Regions from separate parts of the Homo sapiens genome. Here regions 2, 3 and 4 are each linked to region 1. The links come from fine-mapping of genetic effects on gene expression. A gene starts in region 1. Each other region holds a variant in brackets. All regions are shown on one strand. Distances are from middle to middle.

Region 1 (5,000 bases):
ATGCTTCCCATTGCTTCCCCAGTCCAAGCCAACTGAGAGAACCCTGACCCAAGCTTTTCTGCCTCTTTAATCCCCCAGCCCTTCCCTCCAGCACACCCTTCCCCTCCTTGCTGTACAGGTTAAGATCCTCTGTGCCTCCTGAAAACTAAGCCTTGCCTGCTCTCTATGCTACAGATGTGACATTCCCTCCCTTTCAACTCCTCTCTCACAAAACTCTGTTCAGACTTCCCTCAAGACACTTGTCATAGTGTGCCTTGTGTCATATTTGTGTATGTTATGTCTATACCTCAAGCTTCAGAAATTCCTTCACGCAGGTCCTGGGATGTCTTTGTATTCCTAGCATGGGTGCTCAATATTATTTGTAGAACTGAATTTGTTGGGAAAGAGGCATTTAGACTCAGAATGGCAGGGCTGCATCATGAAGTACAACTCCCTCACCTGACTCCTGATGAAACTGAGGTCCAGAGGCATGAAGTGCTTAGGCAGGGGGAGGTCCAGCACTCCAAGCTGAATTTAAGAAGTGACTGGGGGGCGGGGGGGTGGGGTGGTGGTGGTAGTGGATAAACTACAATGTTCTCTTGCCTAATCATTTGGCCTGCTTATTTCCTTAAAAGTCTGAATATTTGATGCCACAGCTATGACTTATATTTATTTTGCCTAATCCAAACTCTCTGAGCTGACTCTCAGAAATGCTTGAAGTATTTCATACAAGTATAATCAATGCATTAAGCACCTGGAGCAGAGTGGCTGGAACCAGACCAGAAATTGATCTTCCCTCCTCTAAGAGCCAAGTGCACCACAGCTATGCTTCTCCTGAACTACTGATCAAAATCTACCTTGCTTTAGTGTTGTCTGTGGATTCATCTCTCCCCTACAACCTCACTGTGGACTCCATGAGGGCAAAAACCCTGTTCTCTACAGCTTTGCATTCCCAGAGCTTACCACCATGCCTGCCACTTTCATGCTCCATAAATGCTGTTGAAGGAATAGATTAATAAAAAAGCCATCTACCAGCACTGAGCACTCACTAAACACAAAGCACTTATATGGATTACCTCACTTAATCCTTAACATTACCCTGATAAGGATCATTAGTGGCCGAATGTTACAGATGAGGAAACTGCAGCACACAGAAGTTTAATAACTTGCCCAAGTTTCACAAAAGCAGTAAGTGATGCAGCCATAAGAACGAACGAAATCATGTCCTCTGCAGCAACATGGACGTGGCTGGAAGCCACTATCTTCTTTTTTATTTTCTTTTGTTTGAGAAGGAGTCTCACTCTATTGCCCAGGCCAGAGTGCAGTGGCATGATCTCGGCTCACTGCAACCTCCACCTTCTGGGTTCAATCAATTCTGCCTCAGCCTCCCCAGTAGCTGGGATTACAGGTGGGAGCCACCACACCTGGCTAATTTTTGCATTTTTAGTAGAGGCGGGCTTTCCCCATGTTGGCCAGGCTGGTCTCAAACTCCTGGCCTCAGGTGTTCCTCAGTCTTGGCCTCCCAAAGTGCTGGAATTACAGGCGCGAGCGCGGCCTGGAAGCCATTATCCTAAGAGAATTAACACAGGAACAGAAAACCAAACACCGCATGGGAGCTAAAACTGGGTACGCACGGACATAAAGATGACAATAAACACACTGGTGACTACTAGAGCTGGAAGGGAGGCAGTGGGGCTAGGGGTGAAAAACTACCTATTGCGTACTATGCTCACTACCTGGGTGAAAGGATCATTTATACCCCAAATCTCAGCATCACGCACTATACCCAGGCAACAAACCTGCACCAATGTACCCCTTGACTCCAAAATAAAAGTTGAAAACATTTTAAAAACTTTTGTAACAATAGTAGTGAAAACAGTATTTGAACCCAAGTCTGCACACTGCTAAACCCATGCTTCTCAGCAATGCATACCCAGGACAAGGGTGGACCTAAGTGGCCCGTGGGCGCCAGGGAGGCGGCCACTGAGCCAAGGGCACAGGGTATGGTCAAGTCTCCAGCAATGCACTTTTCTCAGCACTACCACCCTCAGCCCGAACCAAGGACTGGAAGGAGCCCCAAAGAGTGTGTGGGTGGAGAGCGGGGCAGGAACCCGTGGGCGCGGGAACGAGGAAGGGGAGTCGCTTACCTATTATGGGAACCTCAGCGATGAAGACCCTCCGAATCGAATTGGCCACCCTGAAAGATCAAAAGCCAAGGGGCGTGAAGGCGCTGCAGCCTCGACAGGCTGGGCCCGCGCCGCAGGCTCCCAAAGCTAAAGCCCTGGTGCAGGGGGGCAGCTCTGGAAGGACATCGCCCCCACCCCACCCCACTACACCCCCGCCCCCTGCCCCGGGGCCCCGGCTTGGGCCTCCCGGCGCCCCAGAGCCGCCAGCCTCTTCCCTCGGTAGCCTTACGCCAGGTCGGTGTTCTCGATGATGAACTTGACATTCTCGTCAGTGAGCTCCGTGATCCGCACGGTAGGCTGGTTGGCGTACGGCATCTCGCCCAGGGGCCACCAGCCTCCGCGTCTGCTCCGCGGTGACTGCGCGGCGCCACCGCCAACACCGGAAGTCAGTCAGCGAGGCCTCCGCGGCTTCCGCAAAGACGACTCACAGCGCCGCCTGCTGCTCGGAGGCCAGAACTGCCGAGCGTCTTCTGCGGCCTCCTGCTTTAAAATGTACCAGATTCAGCTATCTCGGAGGGTAGTTTGGCAAAACACGCATACGTCCTTCACTTAACAGTAACACTTCTAAGAATTCATACTGCAGAAACACTTGCAGTTGTAAACAAAGATACGAGTGCAGGGACGTTCGTGGTAGTACTGTTTGTACTGTCCATTGATAAGAGACCTGGTGGAGTATACACACATGGAATACTATGAAGCACTTAAAAAGAACTTGTACATCTATAGAAAAACAAAAGTATATTTTAATATGAATGTATATTTTAGCAAAGTATACCTGAATTATAAGTAAATACCCTTTCCCTTGCAGTCTCAAGTATGGACCATGCACTTCTGAAAACTTCAGGAAAAGATACAATGTTCTTTAACCTAATGCTTCCTCTACAGTCTGTGTAGCTGTGGTGGGTGAGTGGGAACTCTTTGTCTCTGCATCCCCAGTGCCTGGCAGTGGGCACCATGTGGGGTGCATGCTCAACAAAGAACTACTGAAGTCCCCTAAACAGACTGGAGAGAGGTTTAAATGGGCCTCAAAAAAAGTGGCTGCTGCTCCAACAGAGAAAAGCTCTAAAATAGAACGTGGCAGGAAATACATTTAAGAGTTGGGAGAAGAGTAACCAGATAAAGAGGAGTTTGCCTTTGCAAAGAGTGACACCTCTTCCTGAAACAGAGGGTGGGCACTGATGGAACCCTGCTCCATAACCTGTGTCATCTTGGTAAATTAAGAATTATGGTTGTCTGCTGAGTGTAAGATGGATGCTATGAAGGAAAAAGGAGAATGCAATGAAAACTGGAACAGCTACTGCGAAAACTTCACAGGATGTCAAGAGATACAAGGAATTGAGAGGTGCAAAAAAGATCCAGTGGAAGACCCACAAGAGATCTGAAATTCAATTAGTTGCTGACTTTCCCCCATTAATATTCAGCTGACAGGCAGAAGAGAGCAAAGCAGAAAACAGAGCTAACCAGACGTGCAAAGGGAACCCAGCCAGTGTAGAGGCTGAGAAAATTACTGGGGCTAAAGAATGTACCACTAAAATCGTCAGACAAGAGCAGCCAAGGGAGCTGATGGTCTGTGGGAAGGCTTCTGTTACCCGTATTTTACTGATGGGAAGACTTGAGCCCAGAGACGCAGAGGTACTATAATTACCACTATGTATTAGGCAGTGGCAGCGCCAGAACACAGGTCTCCTGGCTGCCATAACTTAACCTGTCTCCCTCTGGGGTCCTGGATACCTATCATGATTGATAAGGAAACTAACTACACAATGGGAAACTACTTCAAACATATTTATTATTTTTACAGACTCAAAATACACTAATAATCCTGCAATGCATGCTGGTGTCATGTGACACCAGGCCTGGAATCACACCTCTGTCCAGCAGGCACTTGTCTCAGGTGAGGCAGTTTTCTGAGGGGGCTCCCAGGAACAGCATCTCAGGACACCTGAGAGGGAGGGGGCTGCAAGGAACACCTCTGTGTGCACACGCCTGTGCTGTGCTGGAGATGAGCTGTCACCTTGAGGTGGCGTCAGACCTTGACTCTGGCTTGGGAGCCCCAAGGTTAAGGGAAGGTTAAGACATGATCAAGGTGCCCATGAGATTGTGACAGGGACATGCTGGGTTTCTGTGGCTTGACTGCTTGGATGAACATCTCATTTTTCAATCACACAGTTGCAGTGCAGAAAGGCATCAGGAGGCTTGGTCTGGTATTAGGAACTGAAGAAGCAGCCCAATCCCTGACCAGAACGGTAGCATCAAATGCCTTGTGGTTTCCAGGTGGCTGTGGTAGTGACTCAGGAGTCCTTTAGTGTGTTCTCGTGAACACCAGGTTATGTGGATGGCACCTTATACTTTTCAAAGCTCTTTCAATCTGTCCGCTCATTCTCTTCTAGGCATTGTAGCTTATACCCCTTCCTCTCACCGACGCTGGTTTAGACCTGTCAAGTTCTTGAGCTGACACGGGAATGGAAATAAAGAGAATAGTGAGGGCTTACCTTGCCTCTAGACTCTAATAGAAAAGACCTAGCTTTTCTTTTTCTCTTTTTTTTTTTCTTTTTTGCATAGAGACAGGGTTTTGCTATGTTGGCCAGACTGTCCTCAAACTCCTGGGCTCAAGCGATCTTCCCAAATCGCTGAGATGATATGCATGAGCCACTGCACCTGGCCAAGATCCAGGTTTGCAAGGTGGCAGGTGTGGCTATGATACAGAGACTTGATATACCAGGGTCCCAGGAGTCAGTGATATCTCCTGATGACAGGAAAAAATAAAGAAGTGAGGTTTTTGGAATCAAGACACTAGGGCTGAACCATTGTCAGCCTTATTATTAGATTATTGTT
Region 2 (8,035 bases), 66 kb after region 1:
CTCTGTTGCCCAGGCTGGAGTGCAGTGGCGCAATATCAGCTCACTGCAAGCTCCGCCTCTCGGGTTCACGCCATTCTCCTAGCTCAGCCTCCCAAGTAGCTGAGATTACAGGCGCCCGCCACTACTCCCAGCTAATTTTTTGTATTTTTAGTAGAGATAGGGTTTCACCGCGTTAGCCAGGATGGTCTCGATCTCCTGACCTCGTGATCCGCCCACCTCCGCCTCCCAAAGTGCTGGGATTACAGGCGTGAGCCACCGCGTCCTGCCAGTTCCTGTTTTCTTATACATTGTTACATTTCTTCTCTGCTGTATAAACTCCTGGTTTTAGTCAATCAGGGAGATGGATTTCAGACTGAGCTCCCATCTGCTTGGTTGCAGCACTCGATTAAAGTCTTCCTTGGCAATACTTGGTGTCTCAGTGATTGGCTTTCTGTGTGGGGAGCAGCAGGACCTAGACTGCACCCATGGTGTTTTGGTAACACTATGAGCACGAGCTCATCTTTGAGCTGTGACAGGGATGACAATGAGAAAATGCATCCAAAGGCTCACAGGGATATCATGTGGACAGTGAACCTCATGAGAAGAAGGTCCATGTCAGGCCAGGAGCAGTGGCTTACGCCTGTAATACCAACACTTGGGAGGCCAAGGGGGCAGATCACCTGAGGTCAGGTGTTCAAGACCAGCCTGGCCAACATGGTGAAACCCCATCTCTACTAAAAATAAAAAATTAGCTGGGCAAGGTGGCACACACCTGTAGTCCCAGCTACTTTGGAGGCTGAAGCAGAAGAATCGCTTGAACCTAGGAGGCAGAGGTTGCAGTGAGCCAAGATCCCACCTTTGCACTCCAGCCTGGGCGACAGAGCAAGATTCCTTCTCCAAAAATAAAAAAAATAAATAAGTAAAAAAAAGAAGGTCAATGTCTTATTGATCAGCATCTCTGGCAATAAACTAATGACTCCTTTCCTCCACCTCTCCCCAGGCCACCACTGCTGTTGCCCTGGTGGTTACCTACCCCTGACACTCTAGAAAGAGGGCCCCAGCCATGTGGATGGGATTTCTCCTTCATTGATCTGATGGTGGTCGTGGCAATGTATAAGCACCTGGAAACAGGTCAGACAGGTCCAGGTGAGAACCAGGGGTGGGGAGAAGGGGAGGCCCAGGAAAACATCCAGGTGGCAGAAGCTCTGGCACTCAGAGAGTCCTGATGCAAGATCTTAGACTCATCAATGAGGCAGTAATTCCTCTATATCCAGCTGTACCCAACCCCTACACCCTACTCTCAAATACCAGAGGAAGCAGAATTGTTCACTGTTCTGGACCTCAAGGATGGCTTCTTCTGCATTCCCCTGCACTCTGACTCCCAGTTTCTCTTTGCCTTTGAGGATCCCACAGACCACACATCCCAACTTACATGGACGGTCTTGCCTCAAGGTTTAGGGATAGCTCTCATCTGTTTGGTCAGGCACTGGCCCAAGATCTCGGCCACTTCTCAAGTTCAGGGACTCTGGTCCTTCAGTATGTGGATGATTTACTTTTGGCTACCAGTTTGGAAGCCTCATGCCAGCAGGCTACTCTAGATATCTTGAACTTTCTAGCTAATCAAGGGTACAAGGCATCTAAATTGAAGGCCCAGCTCTGCCTACAACAAGTCAAATATCTAGGCCTAATCTTAGCCAGAGGAACCAGGGCCCTCAGCAAAGAATGAATACAGCCTATACTGGCTTATCCTCACCCTAAGACATTAAAACAGTTGCAGGGGTTCCTTGGGATCACTGGCTTTTGCCAACTATGGATCCCCAGATACAGCGAGATGGCCAAGCCTCTCTATACTCTAATCAAGGAGACCCAGAGGGCCATCTAGTAGAATGGGAACCAGAGGCAGAAACAGCCTTCAAAACCTTAAAGCAGGCCCTAGTACAAGCTCCAGCCTTAAGCCTTCCCAGAGGACAAAACTTCTCTTTACACATCACAGAGAGAGTGGGAATAGCTCTTGGAGTCCTTACTCAGACTCGAGGAATAACCCCACAACCAGTGGCATACCTAAGTAAGGAAATTGATGTAGTAGCTAAAGGCTGGCCTCACTGTTTATGGGTAGTTGCGGTGGTGGCCATGTTAGTATCAGAGGCTATCAAAATAATACAAGGAAAGGATTTCACCATCTGGACTACTCATGATGTAAATGGCATACTAGGTGCCAAAAGAAATTTATGGCTATCAGACAACCATCTGCTTAGATACCAGGTGCTACTCCTTGAGGGACCGGTGCTTCAAATATGCACCTGTGCGGCCCTCAGCCCTGCTACTTTTCTCCCAGAGGATGGGGAACCAATTGAGCATGACTGCCAACAAATTGCAGCCCAGACTTATGCCACCCAAGAGGATCTCTTGGAAGTCCCCTTAGCTAATCCTGACCTTAACCTATATGCTGATGGAAGTTCATTTGCGGAGAATGGGATACAAAGGGCAGGTTATGCCATAGTTACTGATGTAACAGTACTTGAAAGTAAGCCTTTTCCCCTAGGGACCAGCGCCCAGTTACCAGAACTAGTGGCACTTACCCAAGCCTTAGAACTGGGAAAGGAAAAAAAGAATAAATGTGTACACAGATAGCAAGTGTGCTTATCTAATCCTACATGCCCATGCTGCAATATGGAAAGAAAGGGAGTTCCTAACCTCTGGGGGAGCTCCCATTAAATACCACAAGAAAATCATGGAGTTATCGCATGCAGTGCAAGACCCCAAGGAAGTGGCAGTCTTACACTGCTGAAGCCATCAAAAAGGTGAAGGAGAAAAGGCAGAAGGAAACCGTCAGGCAGACGCTGAGGTCAAAATTGCTGCCAGGTGGAAACTCCCATTAGAAATACCTAGAGAAGGACCCTTGGTATGGAACAACCCTCTCCAAGAGATTAAGCCCCAGTATTCCCTGACTGAAACAGAATGGGGACTTTCATGGGGGCATAGTTTTCTCCCCTCGGGATGGTTAACGACAGAAGAGGGCAGCCAGTGGAAAATACTTAAGACCCTCCACCAAAGTTTTCATATGGGTATTGAGAACACTCATCAAATGGCCAAATCCCTATTTACAGGGCCAAATCTCCTCCGGACCATCCGACAAGTAGTCAAAGCCTGTGATGTGTGCCAAAGGCATAATCCCTTGGCCCATCGTAAGGCCCCTCTGGGACAACAAAGAATAGGGCACCATCCCAGAGAGGACTGGCAGTTAGACGTCTCTCATATGCCTAAGTCAAGGGGATTTCAATACTTGTTAGTCTGTGTTGAAACCTTTACAAATTGGATAGAAGCCTTCCCTTGCAAGACAGAGAAGGATCAGGAAGTGGTTAAAGTCCTAATTCATGAAATAATTCCTAGATTTGGGCTTCCCCAAAGCTTCGCAATCCAGCTTTTACACTCTTACATTTCCAACCTAACCTATTACACAAGCAATGAAAAAACCATACATGGCCCTGCAACCACGAATACTGTCTTAACTTTCCAAGCCCCTTTATGCATCCAATGCAACCTGTTATCAGGACTGCCCCTGGGGCACCTACTATCCCATCAGTGTAATTACACCCTACAACTTCAAGCCCCAACTGATCACAGTAACTTCCGACTCACCCAAACAGCTCCATTCAGATGGCTTGTCCGCTTCTCAGAGCCTCCAAAAATCATCACCTCCTTCCTGCTTAACAAACAGTCTAGGTTTAATAATGGCAAACATACTCCCTGCATGACCATTCACCCCTGGACCCCCTGCAGCAGCGCCCCCACCACTAGTGAATGCCTTCTCATCCCCTATTTCAATCACTCTCTTGAATGGTTCCTAGTAGATACAAAACGATTTTTTCTCCAATGGTAAAATAGAACACAGGGAGCCACTCAGTTTGCTCCCAACACTCCTTTCCAGCCGCTCACTGGAGCTACCTTGGCAAGTACTCTAGGAGTATGGGAAAATGAAAACAACAAACTCACACACCTTTTTAACATACACAACCAGTTCTGTGTACCCAGCCAAGGCATATTCTTCTTATGTGGAACTTCAACCTATATCTGCCTCCCCACCAACTGGACAGGCACCTGCACCTTAGTCTTCCTAAGTCCCAACATTGACATTGCCCCAGGAAATCAGACCCTATCAGTGCACCTCAAAGCTCAAGTCTGTCAGTGCAGAGCAATACAACTAATACCCCTACTTATAGGGTTAGGAATGGCCACTGTTACAGGAACCAGAATAGCCAGTGTATCTACTTCATTATCCTACTACCACACACTCTCTAAGATAGTTTGCAAGAAATAACAAAATCTATCCTTACTCTACAGTCCCAAATAGACTCTTTGGCAGCAGTGACTCTCCAAAACCACTGAGGCCTAGACCTCCTCACTGCTGAGAAAGGAGGACTCTGTACCTTCTTAGGGGAAGAGTGTTGTTTTTACAGTAA[C/T]CTGTCAGGGATAGTATGAGACACCACCCGGTGTTTACAGGAAAAGGCTTCTGAAATCAGACAATGCCTTTCAAACTCTTATACCCACTTCTGGAGTTGGGCGACATGCTTCTCCCTTTTCTAGGTCCCGTGACAGCCATCTTGCTATTATTTGCCTTCGGGCCCTGTATTTTTGACCTCCTTGTCAAATTTGTTTCCTCCAGGATTGAGGCCATCAAGCTATAGATGGTTTTAAAAATGGAACCCCAAATGAGCTCAACTAACAACTTCTACCGAGGACCCCTGGATCGACCCACTGGCCCTTTGGCCCAGAGAGTTCCCCTCTGGAGGACACTACCACTGCAGGGCCCCTTCTTTGTCCCTATCCAGCAGGAAGTAGCTAGAGCAGTCATTACCCAATTCTCAACAGCAGTTGGGGTGTCCTGTTTAGAGCGGGGATTGAGAGGTAAAGCCAGCTGGACTTCCTGGGTCGAGTGGGGACTTGGAGAACTTTTCTGTCCAGCAAGAGGAATGTAAAACGCACCAATCAGCACTCTGTAGCTAGGATTGCAAAATGCACCAATCAGCGCTCTGCAGCTAGCAAGGGGATTGTAAAATGCACCAATCAGCACTCTGTAAAAATGCACTAATCAGCACTCTGTAGCTAGCAAGTGGATTATAAAATGCCACAATCAGCGCTCTGTAACAACGTACCAATCAGTGCTCTGTAGCTAGCAAGAGGATTGTAAAATGCACCAATCAGCACTCTGTAAAATGCACCAATCAGCAATCTGTAAAACACACCAATTGGCAGGATTCTAAAAGTAGCCAATCGTGGGGAGGATTGAAAAAAAGAGCACTCTGATAGGACAGAAATGGAACATGGGTGGGGCCAATAAGAGACTAAATGCTGCCCACCCCCAGCCAGCGGCGGCAACCTGCTTGGGTCCCCTTCCATGCTATGGAAGCTTTGTCCTTTTGCTCTTCACAGTAAACCTTGCTACCACTCACTCTTTGGGTCCGTGCCATCTTTAAGAGCTGTAGCACTCACTGCGAAGGTCAGCGGCTTCATTATTGAAGTCAGCGAGACCATGAACCCACTGGCAGGAACCAACTGGAGACACACTGAGACTCCAGAGCTTCTAGATTCTCCCTTGCCTCCTCACTCCTCTGGAGAGATTGGGCGACAAGCAGGGTGTGACCCAGTCCAGGCTTCCTGGGGATTCTGGCCTGCCTGGGGACAATGTCTTGACCGGGATGTGCTGGTGATTGCATAACCACAGGACCAGCTCAAACTAGTTTACCATTGCTTGAGTTGTTACAGATGGCACGGAGCCAAAACTGCATGTCATGTAGCCTGGCCCGGTGCAATCAGAGAAAACTTCCACCTCCTGAGAGTTAGCACCACCAACGTGGCAACCGGCCACATTGGCATCCCTGGGACTAGTTAACAGTGCCATAACAACTTGACCCACCCAGGGATCAGGGAGGCAGATTTGAGTGTTGTCTCCTGTCTCCTTGCCAGGTGACTTGGAATAAAGCTTTTTCTTTTCGCAAAAGTGGTGCTATAATATTGGCTTCTACTCACATCGGGCAGCAAGTCCATTACTTTGTAACAATTGGAGGATTCGAGGAGCTCAGGAGTGACTCGAACACATCACAGATGATCACTTTCAGTCTCTGACAGTCGTTTGAGGGAGTTAAATACTTTCCACCAGGAAATTCCTTGAAATTCAGCGCCCCACAAGGACAAGGTGGGCTTTTCCATCAGTTGGAAAGGGGCACGGCACAAGGAGTGTCAAAAGACACAGATGGGTGGGCTCTGGCCTTTCCCCTCTTCACCCTTTCCAGGATCTGCAGTGGTCACTGGGACACAAAGGGAAACAGGGCACATCCATGCCTTCCCTCACAGATCTTTCAGAAACACAGTGGGGCAGGCAGGTACAGCCAGGTCACGTGAGGGTTATGAGGGAAGACCCCAGGGGCCATGAGTCCGCTTAACAGGAAACCTTCCTTAAACTTAGAAGTCAGGGAAGGCCTCCTGGAAGAGGTGACATCTAAGCTGAGACAAAGGATGAATAGAAGTTGGCCAGGGGACTAGTTAAGGGGTAAGTTCTCTCAGATAGAGAGAAGACTGACTTGAAATATAAAGAAAATCAGCTGGGTGTGGTGGCTGATACCTGCAATCCCAGCACTTTGGGAGGCCGAGGTGGGTAGATCACCTGAGGTCAGGAATTTGAGACCAGCCTGACCAATATGGTGAAACCCTGTCTCTACTATATACAAATAATTATCCAGGCGTGGTGGCACGCACCTGTAGTCCCAGCTACTTGGAAGGCTGAGGCAGGAGAATCGCTTGAACCCAGAAGGCAGAGGTTGCAGTGAGCCAAGATTGTGCCATTTCACTCCAGCCTGGGCAAGAAGAGCACAAACTCTGTTTCAAAAAAAAAGAAAAGAAAAAGAAAAAAGAAAAAAGAAAAAAAATACTTAAAAATCTATAAAATGCACCAATCAGCACCAATCACTTTGGGAGGCAGGTGGATCACCTGAGGTCAGGAGTTTGAGACGAGCCTGGCCAACCCCATCTCTACTAAAAATACAAAAAATACAAAAACAAAAACAATACACACAAAAAAATCAGCTGGGTATGGTGGTGTGTGCCTGTAAACCCAGCTACTCAGGAGGCTGAGACAGGAGAACTGCTTGAACCTAGGAGGCGGAGGTTGCAGTGAGCCAAGAGTGTGCCACTGGACTCCACCCTGGGTGACAGAGCGAGAATCCATCTCAAAAAAAAAAAAAAATCTGTGGACAAATGTGCTGGGAGAGGGTGAGAAGGATGGGAACTGGCAGTAGGAGGATGAGGGTAAAGCCAATTGACCCATGGAAACCCTCCAGGAAAGCTGAGACACAGAAACTGCCCTTGCTGGTCCCTAGAGCTGTGCCTACACACCTGATTCCTGTGCCCACAGGCCCAGGTTACCCTGGTTTGGCTTCTGGGCTTAGGAGGTGCTTGCAAAACTGGCCGACCCAGATCAACTGGCAATGAGGTGAGGCTGGATAATGTTACTATTCTTTTCCCTATTTACTTCCTTGTCTGCTGAAGCATATCTGTATTAGTCAAGGTTCTCTAGAGGGACAGAACTAAAAAGATAGATGTATATATAAAGGGAAATTTATTAAGGAGTATTGACTCACATGATCACAAGGTGACATTCCACAACAGGCCATCTGCAAGCCAAGGAGCAAGGAAGCCAGCCTGAGTCCCAAAGCTGAAGAACTTGGAGTCCGATGTTGGAGGGCAAGAAGCATCCAGCATGGGAGAAAGATGTAGGCTGGGAGGCAAAGCCAGTCTAGTCTTTCCATGTTCTTCTGCCTGCTTTTATTCTAGCCGTGCTGGCAGCTGATTAGATTGTGCCCACCCAGATTGAGGGTGGGTCTGCCTCTCCCAGTCCACTGAGTCAACTGTTGCTCTCCTTTGGCAACACCCTCACAGACATACCTAGGAACAATACTTTGCATCCAATCAAGTTGACATTCAACATTAACCATCACAACATCCGAGCCATTAAAACTCTCGAGCACCAACGTATTTCAGAGAAACTGTAAAGCCTTTCCTC
Region 3 (5,000 bases), 48 kb before region 1:
CCCGCAGTCTGGGTCACATTGTTCAGGAGCCATAAACTCCAGAAGTGGGCAGGCAGGCCCTGCTGGGCCTCTCAAGTGCTTCCATCGGGGAGGGTGGGGCCACCCAGGACCGCTGTGTCGTTTTATTTTCCAACTTTTTGTGCTTTAATGTTCCGGGGACAGCTCACTAAATCACTGTGCAGTAATGGAGGCCCCCGCCTGTGCCCCTCCCTTACGTGTTAATAATTCATGTCTTCCAGTAAGATGCAGCCGGGGCGGCCACTTTGCTGGGGGGTTGGGGGAGGGATCGGCATTTCCTTCACCAGCTCTTCTTAGACTCAAAGTTTTCCTCGTAAATTTTGACTTTAGGAATTTTAATGTGAGGAAGAACTAGGGCTGAGCCCTTTCTCACTGACACTGGGAATGTAGAGGGCTCAGCCCACCCTGCACTGTCACACCAACCAACTCTGCTGCCTGTGCTCTGAGAGCCAGGCTTGGGTTCAAATCCTGCAGCATGACCTTGAGCCAGCTCCTTCACCTCTCTAACCGCCCAGCTGCTCTGGCACCACCCACTTCAGTTCAGAGCTCTGCCCCACTCCCCACCATCTGTGTGACTTTGAGCAAATGACTTCACCTTTCTGTGCCTCGGTTTCCTTGCTTGTAAAATGGGGGTGATAATGGCACTTCTATCATATAAGGAGATTACAGGAGATGAGACAGCAGGGAAAGCACCAGGGAAGGCTTAACTGCTCCAGCACCAGCTGCAGCCACCTTATCGGGGGACTACCAGCCAGGCTGCTCTAACCTCCTGTCACCCCCACCCCACAGGCTCCGCAGGCAGCAGCAGAACGCTCCCCTCTTCGGGAAGATCCGCAGTGCTCGCTTTGGCACCGAGGAGGCCGAGGATGGAACCAGTGACCTGGACGAGGACGAGGACCTGCAAATCCAGGTGGCCTAGAGCTTCCTGTGGCTGGGCAGGATGGGCCGCCCCATACCTGCCCAGGGTCCAGGCTAACCAGCCACTCAAACTGATGCAGTGCCTAGGCTCACTCTGGGACCAGTCCCTGCCACAGCCGACTTTCTTCTCTCCCAGGGATGGCGTCAACAGTCCCACCTACCAACGCCCTGTGGAAAGGAAGCCTATGTTTTATATATATATATACACACACGCGCGCGCGCGCGCGCACACCCAGAAGTCTTTGGACCCATTTGGTTTTATAAATACAGGACAGCTCCAAGGCCCAGTCCAGATGACCTCACCCACCCAGGACTTCATGCAGGGCTGGGCATGTTGGGGGCAGTTGTTGGAGCCCCACCCTGGGCTGCCTCTCTAGGCTTCGCTGTTCATCATACAATGCAGTGAACCCAGTTATTTGTAATAAATGAAGTTCAAGTTCTTGGGGCATCTGAAAGTATGGCAGATGTGGGCGGGGGTTGTGGGGGACGGCATCGGCCTGCACCTGACGCTGAACCAGAGCTCAGGAATGTCAAGTAACTTAATAAATGAGTGAATGTGAAGAAGAAAGAATGAATGAATGAGGCCAGCCACGGTGGCTCACACCTGTAATCCCAGCACTTTGGGAGTCCAACGCAGGTAGATTGCTTGAGCCCAGGAGTTCAAGACCAGCCTGGGCAACATGGCCAAATCCCGTCTTTACTAAAAACACAAAAATGAAAAAAAAAAAAAAAAAACACAAAAATGAGCCGGGTATGGTGTTGATTGCCTGTGATTTCAGCTACTCAGGAGGCTGAGGCAGGAGAATCGCTTGAAGCCAGGAGGTGGGAGTTGCAGTGAGCCGAGATCACACCATTGCACTCCAGCCTGGGCAACAGAGCAAGACTCGGTCTCAAAAAAAACCCCACAAAGAATGAATGAATAAACATCTGAGCTGCTGAGCAGTCTGGTATCCACTCCTGTGGCGAGGAGGAAGAAAGTACAGTGCATGCCTACTCTAGAGACTTCAGTTCTGGCACCCGATGGATTCATGTCTCTGCCCCTTATTAGCTGTGCAACCTCTGGGAAGTTACTTGCCCTCTCTGAGCCTCAGTTTCTTCATTTATAAGATGTCTCAGAGCTGTCACAAGAATTAGATAGGTTAACCCAGAGCTCGGTAAAGGTTAGTTATATTAAATACCTAAAAGTTTTCCCTGGAGAGGAGGGATTTGCCAGGTGGGCGCAGGGGATGAAGTTCAAGTATTGATGGAAGTTTACCTAGAGGTAGATGTGGACACAATAAATTACAAACCCTTTTTTTCCCCCCAGCCCTGCCCTACATAGCGAAATTACAGGCAGTTTTATTTTTGGTATTTAATTTCTATACCTTCTATAACCAGCAGATTTATGTTAAATCTGATGGTAACAGTGATTAGAAACATGGTAGCAGGCTGGGCATGGTGGCTCATGCCTGTAATCCTAGCACTTTGGGAGGCTGAGGCAGGCAGATCACCTGAGGTCGGGAGTTCAAGACCAGCCTGGCCAACATGGTGAAACCCTGTCCCAACTAAAAATACAAAAATTAGCCGGGCCTGGTGGCAGGCGCCTGTAATCCCAGCTACTCGGGAGGCTGAGGCAGAAGAATCGCTTGAACTCGGGAGGTGGAGTTTGCAGTGAGCCGAGATTGCACCACTGCACTCCAGCCTGGGCGACAGAGCAAGACTCTGTCTCCAAAAAAAAAAGAAACACGGTAGCATACACTTTTGATCTTTCACAGTCAAAGTGGCTTTCGGGGCATCTGCTCTTTTGATGGGACCCTTTAGGTAAATTCTCAGTACCCGGGCCTGCTTTCTGCAGAAGGAAGCGTTGCCAGGATTATTCTAGCATAAAGAAGGTGGTGAGCTCCCTGTGTTTAGGGCTGTGCAAGGAGAGGCTAGGGCTCCAGCCTGGCCCCAAAGAGCAGTTAAATTCGGTTGACAAAGGGGCTGCCTGCTAGGGGTGGGAGAGCTGCACTAAATGATTTTCTCTCGGTGTGGCCTAGTTAAGAGGGAGCCATGAGGCCACAATGCTCAGAGCTGTCCCAGGGACACCAGGGACACCTGGTGCTGGGTCTCAGGGTCACCAGGAGCTCTGGGGATTGTGAAGAGGAGAGAGGCAGACCCAGGAGCCCAGCTGGGCGCTAATAA[ATAAG/G]GGCACTGAAAAATTTTCTGTTGCCAACACTAAATTAATGATGTTAGCGAGGTGGGTTTGCTGCCATGGCAAAGCCCCTGGGCTCTGAGGGGGATGGGGAGGCTGAGTGAGACAACCACGGGGACTCCTGCTTTGTGGCCAGTGGAAAGTCAGCGCCAGTGGAAAACAGGGCTTTGAGAAGAAGGTCATTTCCTGCCAGGGATCTGTCTGCTTTCTCTCCCAAATAGGAAGTTGGTCCCAGAAAAGGCTGAAAGTGCTGCCCTTTGACCCTGAAGAGCTAGGAGGCAGGAGCCAGGCCCTCACTGACACTAGCTCTAAGAGCCACCTCCGGCTGGACCTGCCAGACCTGCCATTCCCAGACACAGAGCAGACCCTGTCTGGCGTGGCCAGGCTCCCCCAGACTCCCTGGCACCACCTGTGAGATAGCACTGAGCAGGGGCCTCATTACAGCCCCTATCTCCCAGGCAGACTGCTCCTAAGAATGTCAGCAAGGAGAGGGTCTGGCTTCCCACCTCCATGGTACACAAGAAAACAGGCCTCGGGAGGGGAGGGACGGTTGCAGATAGGGCTTGGAGATGGTCCCAGCCTGGAACGTGTGCTGCTTCTGCTCACAGCCCTTCTGTGGCTCCCCAGCTTACCTGCAGAGAAAGTCACCTAGTGTTCATGGTGGCCACTGCCCAAAGAAGCATTAGCTTTGCCTCATTTGATACTTTAAAAAGTATTTAATGCGTTGCTAACATTAGTAATGGGAGGTTTTCCCACAAAGCCATGGGGTTCCCTCTCTTGAGAAGTTAGCATCTCTGACCAGCGTGGACTCACTCCCACATGGCTACAGCTGCTGGGCTGAGAGGAGGCTCCTCCCTGGGGTGGGACACAGGCACCCTGGGCACCGCAGTCCCCACCACTCCCTGCAGCCTTCCCCTGCACTGCCCTCACTCATTTAAATTACTGCCCCACTCTTGGAGGCATTTGAAGATTTTTCCTCGGGCTTAGTCCAGTTTCTCTTTGAGCAAGTAAGGAAACAGAGAGAGGGGAGGTGCTGAGCCCGCCAGCATGAGATGTAGCCAGGCCAAGAGCACATGTCACTCGCGGGCTCTGATCCCCTGCAGGCTCCTGGTCACTCCAGGGGTGACTGCCAAGAACAGCTAGAATGTGTTGAGCGCCCCTCCCACCCCACTGTGCCTCACAGGCATCGTCTCACTGATCATTCCCAACAGCCACACGCGGTAGGTGTCACCATCATCATCCTATTTTATGCTGAGGATCCAGGGGCTCAGAGAGATGGAGTGATTGTTCCAAGGCCACACAGCTGACTAGACATGAAACTGGGATCCCGGCCAGAGCCCACACTCCTTTATTGTTTTTATTTATTATTATTATTTTTGAGACAATGTGTGTCTGTGTCACCCAGGCTGGAGTGCAGGGGCACAATCCCGGCTCACTGCAGCCTCTGTCTCCCAGGTTCAAGAGATTCTCCTGCCTCAGCCTTCCCTGTAGCTGGGATTACAAGCATGTGCCACCACGCCCAGCTGTTTTTTGTTGTTGTTGTTGTTGTTTGTTTGTTTTTAGTAGAAACGGGGTTTCACCATGTTGGCCAGGCTGGTCTCAAACTCCTGACCTCAAGTGATCCACCTGCCTTGGCCTCTCAAAGTGCTGGGATTACAGACATGAGCCACCGCACCTGGCCCACGCTCCTGATCATGGGTCGCCACCCCACCCTCCAAAGCAAGGCCCCATGTGGCCCCTGCCCTCTGCCTCACCACCACACTCTACTCTGCAGACGCTGCAGCTCCAGCCATGCCGACCTCCTTACTGCCCCGAGTACTGCCCTGCACTCATCAAAGTCCCACCAGCCCTTCAGAACTCGGTCTACTGGGCTCATTCTTAGCGTGTTAGA
Region 4 (6,212 bases), 150 kb after region 1:
GCCACTCAATCTGATGGCCAAGAGGTCAATTGAAGAGCTGGGCAGGTGGAGAGAGGAACATCCTTCTCTTCCATAGTCAGACATTAACCAGGAGAGAACTGGATCCCCAAAATGTAATCTTGAGGACTTGAGCACAAGTACTGAGGGCCCTAGTTGGGGTGCTATGAACATACGGGGGAAACACTCTGAATTGGGGATTTATTGGGGGATTTATTCATTTGTTCTTTCAATTAATAAATACTTCCTACAAGGAGGCCAGCCTCAGTGACTGAAATCCCAGCACTTTTGGAGGCCAAGGCAGGAGGATCACTTGAGTCCAGAAATTCGAGACCACCCTGGGCAACATAGTGAGACTCTGTCTCTACAAAAAATACAAAAGTTATCCAGGCTTGGTGGTGCATGCCTAAAGTCCCAGCAAGTCGGGAGGCTGAGGTGGGAGGATCATTTGAGCCTAGAAGGTTGAGGCTGCATTGAGTCATGATCGAGCCACTGCATTCCAACCTGGGTGACAGAGCAAGACCCTGTCTCAAAAACAAAAACAGTTCCTACAGGGAAGCAGGCACCAAGATCTGTGGGGATTGAAGAGTCCCAGCTCACATGAGTGTGGGGTCTGGTGGGGACACACGTAGCCTAAGACTCTCCTCTCTCTCTCTCTCTCTGACACACACACACACACACACACACACACACACACACACACACACACCATGCCAAGGGTTCTGGTGCAGACAGGGGAGCTGACCCAGGCTGGAGGTCAGGAAAGGCTCCCGTGGGAGGGAACCAGAGGAGAGCTGAGGGCGGGTGAAGGTGTTGAGCTCCTTCAGCAACTTGGAAACTTTCTCAGACAACCTGACCTAGAAAAATTTTGCATCAGACTCTCATTTTTATGAGGAACTTGATAAATGAAGAAACTTGCTCTGTATATCTGCTGAAACCTTTGGAGAACAAAGGAGGCATCAGTAATGCTCTTTTTTTAGAATGAAAAGTAATTTTCATGGCTCTTTTTCCTTTCACGTTGCAAAAGCAGTGCATTTTGGGAAACATGACTCCCCCAGCCCCCACCCTCCCCTGCCCTGCCCACCGTGTCTCTGGCTGGGGAACAGGGCACGCGACTTGCACCACCCTGTCATGACCTCCTGGGACTCCAAGAGTCCACCTGTTGCCTGTCCAGGCACCTCCCCTGGGCAGACCCACCTGTGCCCCTGCTGGCACATCCTCTGCTGAGGTCCCCAGGACAAAGGACATAGGTTGGTCTTCTAGGATCTGAGTCCCAGCAACCATAGAGAAAGACTGCAACAAACAGGCCTGGAGAAAATAGCATTAGGCATATCAAAATCCAGAGGGAAATGGGGAGTTATTTGAAGATAAAGAATTTCCAGAGGAAATGTCAAAACTCTGAGTGGCTTCACGCAGGTGGAAAAGGGCTTCAGCTGTGGGTTCCTTCCCCTCCCCAGGGTTGTGGTCCCCATTTCCCTCCTTGGAAGCCCCACTTGGATGGGTTTGCGTCCCGGATATGGCCTGCAACACTGGGTCCAAGCAGTTTAGGGGCTAGCTCTGACTCTGGAAGGCTGGAGAAATGGCTGCACCAGCTCTGGGCTCTCACGATGCACACAGGGCCAGGAGCAGTGGCTCATGCTTGTAATCTCAACACTTTGGGAAGCCAAGGCAGGAGGATTGCTTGAGGCCAGGAGTTTAAGACCAGCCTGGGCAACGTAGACCTTGTCTCTACAAAAAAAAAAAAAAAATTTTGTTGTTGTTGTTTCAATTAGCGGGACATGGTGGCCAAACACCTGTAGCCCCAGCTTACTCAGGAAGCTGAGGCAGCAGGATCTTTTGAGCCCAGGAGTTTGAGGCTGCAGCAAGCCAAGATTGCACCATTGCACTCCAGCCTGGGTGACAGAGCAAGGCCTTTCTCTAAAATATAAATAAGGCCAGGCCTGGTGGCTCATGCCTGTCTTGCCAGCACTTTGGGAGGCTGAGGCGGGTGGATCACTTGAGGCCAGGAGTTCGAGACGAGCCTGGCCAACATGGTGAAACGCCATCTCTACTAAAAATACAAAAATTAGCCGGGCGTGGTAGTGTGCGCTTGTAATCCCAGCTACTTCGGAAGCAGAGACAGGAGAATCTCTTGAACCCAGGAAGCAGAGACTGCAGCGAGCTGAGATCATGCCACTGCACTCCAGTCTGGGCAACAGAGCGAGGCTCCATCTTAAAAATAAATAAATAAAATAAAAATAAATAATGATTTTAAAATGATGCCCATAGAAAATGTGTAGTGATTGAAAGGAAAATGGAATATTTGTCCCTCTTTATTGCACTTTCCCCAGGATCCCTGGCTTTCCTGGAGAAATTGATGCCCTATCTCAACTGGACTCCATACCATCCTTGGTTCTCCTGAGACCCATCTTCTCTCAGTCCCACCCCTAGGCCTTTGCTCATGATGGGCTCCATGGAATGCCTTCCCCCTCCTCTCAGCCCATATAGGTCAGACCGGTCCTTCTCTGCCCACCTTCTCCAGCACACCTCCTCCTCTTTGGCATCCCTGGAGTTCTTTCTCTTCCACTAAGTCTGCATCATTTAATCAGGCAGGATCTGATCTCTTGTTTCCTGATGTTTTGCAGAGGAGCCATCTAAGCTAGCACTGCCCAATAGAAATATGACACAAGCCACACAGGAAATTCAATTTCTTTTTCTTATTCTTTTTCCGTTTTTTTTTTTTTTTTTTTAAACAGAGTCTCGCTGTGTCGCCAAGACTACAGTGCAATGGCACAATCTCAGCTCACTGCAACCTCCGCCTCCC[A/G]GGTTCAAGCGATTCTCCTGTCTCAGCCTCCTGAGTAACTGGGAATAAAGGCGTGTGCCACCACACCCATCTACTTTTTTTGTATTTTTGGTAGAGATGGGGTTTCACCATGTTGGCCAGGCTAGTCTTGAACTCCTGACCTCAAGTGATCCATCTGCCTCAGCCTCCCAAAGTGCTGGGGTTACAGGCATGAGCCACCGCACCCAGCCAGAAATTAAATTTTTCTAGTAGCAGCATTGAAAAAAGTAAATAGAAACAGTGGAAATTAATTTTAATAATATATTTTTATTTGACCCAACATGGCCAAAGTATAATTACATTGAAAATTAATAATAAAACAGTTTACATTTTTTTCATACTGTCTTTGAAACCTACTTTGTATTTTACACTCATGATCCCTCTGAATTCAGACTGGCCACATTTCTTTTTTTATTTTATTTTATATTATATTATTTACTTTTTTTTTTTTTTGAGATGGAGTCTCACTCTATTGTCCAGGCTGGAGTCCAGTGGCATGATCTAAGCTTACTGCAACTTCTGCCTCCCGGATTCAAGCAATTCTCCTGCCTCACCCTCCTGAGTAGCTGGGATTACAGGTGTACACCACCATGCCCAGCTAATTTTTGTATTTTTAGTGGAGATGGGGTTTTGCCATGTTGGCCAAGATGGTCTCGAACTCCTGACCTCAAGTGATCTGCCTGCCTCGGCCTCCCAAAGTGCTAGGATTACAGGCGTGAGCCACTACACCTGGCCTGGACTGGCCACATTTCAAATGCTCAAGAGCCAGTGAGTGACTACTGTGTGGGAGGGTACAGGTCCAGGCTGTATTTTTCTTTGGGTTACATGTGACAGAGGTTCACATTAAACTGGCATAAGTGAAAAAGGGCATTGGCTCATGAAACTGACAAGACCAAAAGGGATAAATTGAGGGACAGCTAGCTCCAGGCTTTCCAATGTCGTCAATGTCGTCAGAGAGCTGACATTGTATATTTTCCAGCTTTCCTTCTCAAGTAGGTTCTGGATGGCATAGCAAAGACAGCCACCACCAGCTCAGCCACCTGACCCCGCACCCAGCTTCTCTATTCCAAGTGTTCCCCCAGGCCAGACTCCCACTGGACCAACTGGAATTCTGCACTCATTTCTGAACCAATCAGTGTTGTGGCAAGATGGGTGGAATGGCTGACTAGCAGATGTGAGTCGTCTGACCATTCCCAGCATGAGAGGAGAGGAGAGTCAGCCTCACCTTTCCTGATGGGACTGACAGTGGCCACGGAGGGGTTTCCCAAAGGAGAATCAGGAGGTTTGGTACCCAAAGACTAAGGGGGCCACACAGGATGGGGAGGGAGAGGGATGTGAGGTGAGAGTGAAAAGTGACCAGAATGCAGGTTGGATTGAATAAAAAGAGGCTCCCAAGAGTACTGGAGTATGAGATTGAACAGGAAAGACATGATCTTAGTCTGGCGGAAATGTTCAAAAGATGTGATGGCTAGTAGGGCACATGCCAGTGAGAGCAGATAATAGCCTTAGTGCTGGGTGCCCAGGAGTTTTGGGGGTTGTGGGGAATCCCGGAGAGGGGAAGGGCCAGGATGGTCGTGGGGACTATGGGAGGCTCATTGCAGCCCCATTTACCAAGGAGCACAGCAGTATTTCCACCTGTTGCTACTGATATGGCCATAGGAAGCACATCAGGAGACCATCCAGAGGCCTCGACCTCAGACACTGCATCCCATACCCCACACTAAGGATGCAGCCCACCCCGAGAGAAAACTCTGCCCTGGTGCAGCTCTGAGCAGAACACAGGAACCTTTTAGCCCAGAAAGACAGAGCAGATGGACCTTCCCGAGGGTCTGGAGGTCCCCAAGCCCAGGCAGGCAAAAGGGTTGTTATCCCAATGGGGAGGGCTAGGCACGGGACTCAGAGATGAAGACTCCTGGGGAAGGCAAGGGTCATGAATGGCCTTCCCAGGGGGGAACCCAGGCTTCCTGAGCTCCACTAGAGAGGCACAAAAAGCTGACTTGAAGAGCCCAGAGAATTGACTCAGTCGTCTGTCCGTCCGTCCATCCATCCATCCATGCATCCCTTTGTCCGTTCACCCACTCATGTACTATTTATTTACCAAGCTCCTGCTATGTGACAGGAATGCCCTACCTGCCAGGAATACCCTGGTGAACTAGATGGCCAAGGTCCCTGCCTTCGCAGAGCCCAGAGCCTAGTCAGGGAGAAACACGATCAACAGATAAGCCAGCCAATGAACACGGTGACTTCGGATCTCAAATAGGGTGGCCAGATAGCAAATGAGTGGGAGGAGAGGTGGGGGCTGCTTTAGCCACGCGCTGAGGAAGAGTCATTTGAAGAAGATGGCTCTAGACAGAGGAAACGGCCAGTTTCATAGACCCTGCAGAGGGAGTACGTTTTGTATTGGAAAACCAGATAAATGGAGGTGGGAGATGAAGGTGGGGGAAGAGGTCGGAAAGCTGGTCACGGCTGACTCAGGTGAGGCAGTCAGGATGCACTGTGGTTGTGGGGAGGGCAGGCTAGAGATTCTCTCCACAAAGTCAGATTGGCAGGTCAAACTGGCCCCATAGTATTCACCAGGCACAAGAACTGTCATATTAGGCTGGGCACAGTGGCTCATGCCTATAATCTCAGCATTTTGGGAGGCTGAGGTGGGAGGTGTGCTTGAGGCCAGGAGTTCAAGACCACCCTAGGCAATATATTGAGACCCCATCTCTACAGAAATGTTTTTTTGCAAAAATTAGCCAGGCGTGGTGGCTTGTGCCTGTAGTGCTAGCTACTCGGGAGGCTGAGGTGGAAGGATCACTTGAGCCCAGGCAGTCGAGGCTGGAGTTAGTTGTGATTGCACCACTACACTCCAGCCTGGGTGACAGAGTAAGATCTTGTCTCAAAAAAAATAAAATAAAATAAAAAAGTCACATTGTTTTATTTTGCTGGGCTAACACATAAAGCATTTACTCTGCTCCAGGCACTCTAAGTGCTCAGCATGTATTAACTTATTTGATCTTCTCAAAAATCCTCTAAGATAGATATTAGTACTAAGCCCATTTTACAGATGGCGAAACTGGGGAACTGAGAGGCTAAGTAACTCCCCCAAGGTCACAGAGCTAGCAAATGGCAGAAGCAGGATTTGAACTCAGGTGGTCCCAGAGTCCATGCACTCAGCCACGAGGGCTCAAATTAAAATTGGCCAGCCAGGCATGGTGGCTCACACCTGTAATCCCAGCACTTTGGGAGGCCGAGGCAGGTGGATCGCCTGAGGTCAGGAGTTCAAGACCAGCCTGGCCAACATGGTGAAACCCCATCTCTACTAAAAATACAAAAAAAAAAAAAATTAGCTGGGGGTAGTGGTGGGCGCCTGTAATCCCATCTACTCAGGAGGCTGAGGCAGGAGAAT

Alleles and levels. Positions count from the first base shown, and alleles are read on the strand shown. Sizes are in standard deviations (SD) of each study's normalised expression. Not every link is listed here.
As copies of ATAAG replace G in region 3, the expression in monocytes of the gene that starts at base 2,526 in region 1 goes up (large effect, 1.5 SD a copy in Fairfax 2014).
As copies of A replace G in region 4, the expression in monocytes after LPS of the gene that starts at base 2,526 in region 1 goes up (large effect, 2.1 SD a copy in Fairfax 2014).

What was found. PIP is the estimated chance that this variant, and not a neighbour inherited with it, causes the effect.
Region 2: its variant is the best candidate, but not a certain one, in a credible set for the expression of POLR2C in monocytes after LPS (Fairfax 2014, PIP 0.73).
Region 3: its variant is the best candidate, but not a certain one, in a credible set for the expression of POLR2C in monocytes (Fairfax 2014, PIP 0.65).
Region 4: its variant is the best candidate, but not a certain one, in a credible set for the expression of POLR2C in monocytes after LPS (Fairfax 2014, PIP 0.52).

Annotation. Positions count from the first base shown.
Region 1 is chr16:57,460,205-57,465,204 of GRCh38, reverse strand. It overlaps POLR2C (RNA polymerase II subunit C), which reads right to left and starts at 2,526. Exons shown (of 9, transcript NM_032940.3): 1 at 2,395-2,526; 2 at 2,127-2,176. The coding sequence starts at 2,480. COQ9 (coenzyme Q9) reads right to left here. Exons shown (of 9, transcript NM_020312.4): 9 at 3,935-4,616. The coding sequence ends at 4,581. RefSeq lists an enhancer at 2,374-2,668.
Region 2 is chr16:57,392,310-57,400,344 of GRCh38, reverse strand. It overlaps a transcript of CCL17 not described here. Among named protein-coding and RNA genes, the nearest start is that of CCL17, 8.4 kb to the left of the region's middle. The variant C/T (reference allele first, on the strand shown) is at 4,440.
Region 3 is chr16:57,508,678-57,513,677 of GRCh38, reverse strand. It overlaps CCDC102A (coiled-coil domain containing 102A), which reads left to right. Exons shown (of 9, transcript NM_033212.4): 9 at 808-1,497. The coding sequence ends at 937. Among named protein-coding and RNA genes, the nearest start is that of DOK4, 25 kb to the right of the region's middle. RefSeq lists enhancers at 3,448-3,948, 4,644-5,000. The variant ATAAG/G (reference allele first, on the strand shown) is at 3,100.
Region 4 is chr16:57,305,936-57,312,147 of GRCh38, reverse strand. No RefSeq gene overlaps it. Among named protein-coding and RNA genes, the nearest start is that of TRL-CAG2-2, 8.5 kb to the right of the region's middle. The variant A/G (reference allele first, on the strand shown) is at 2,801.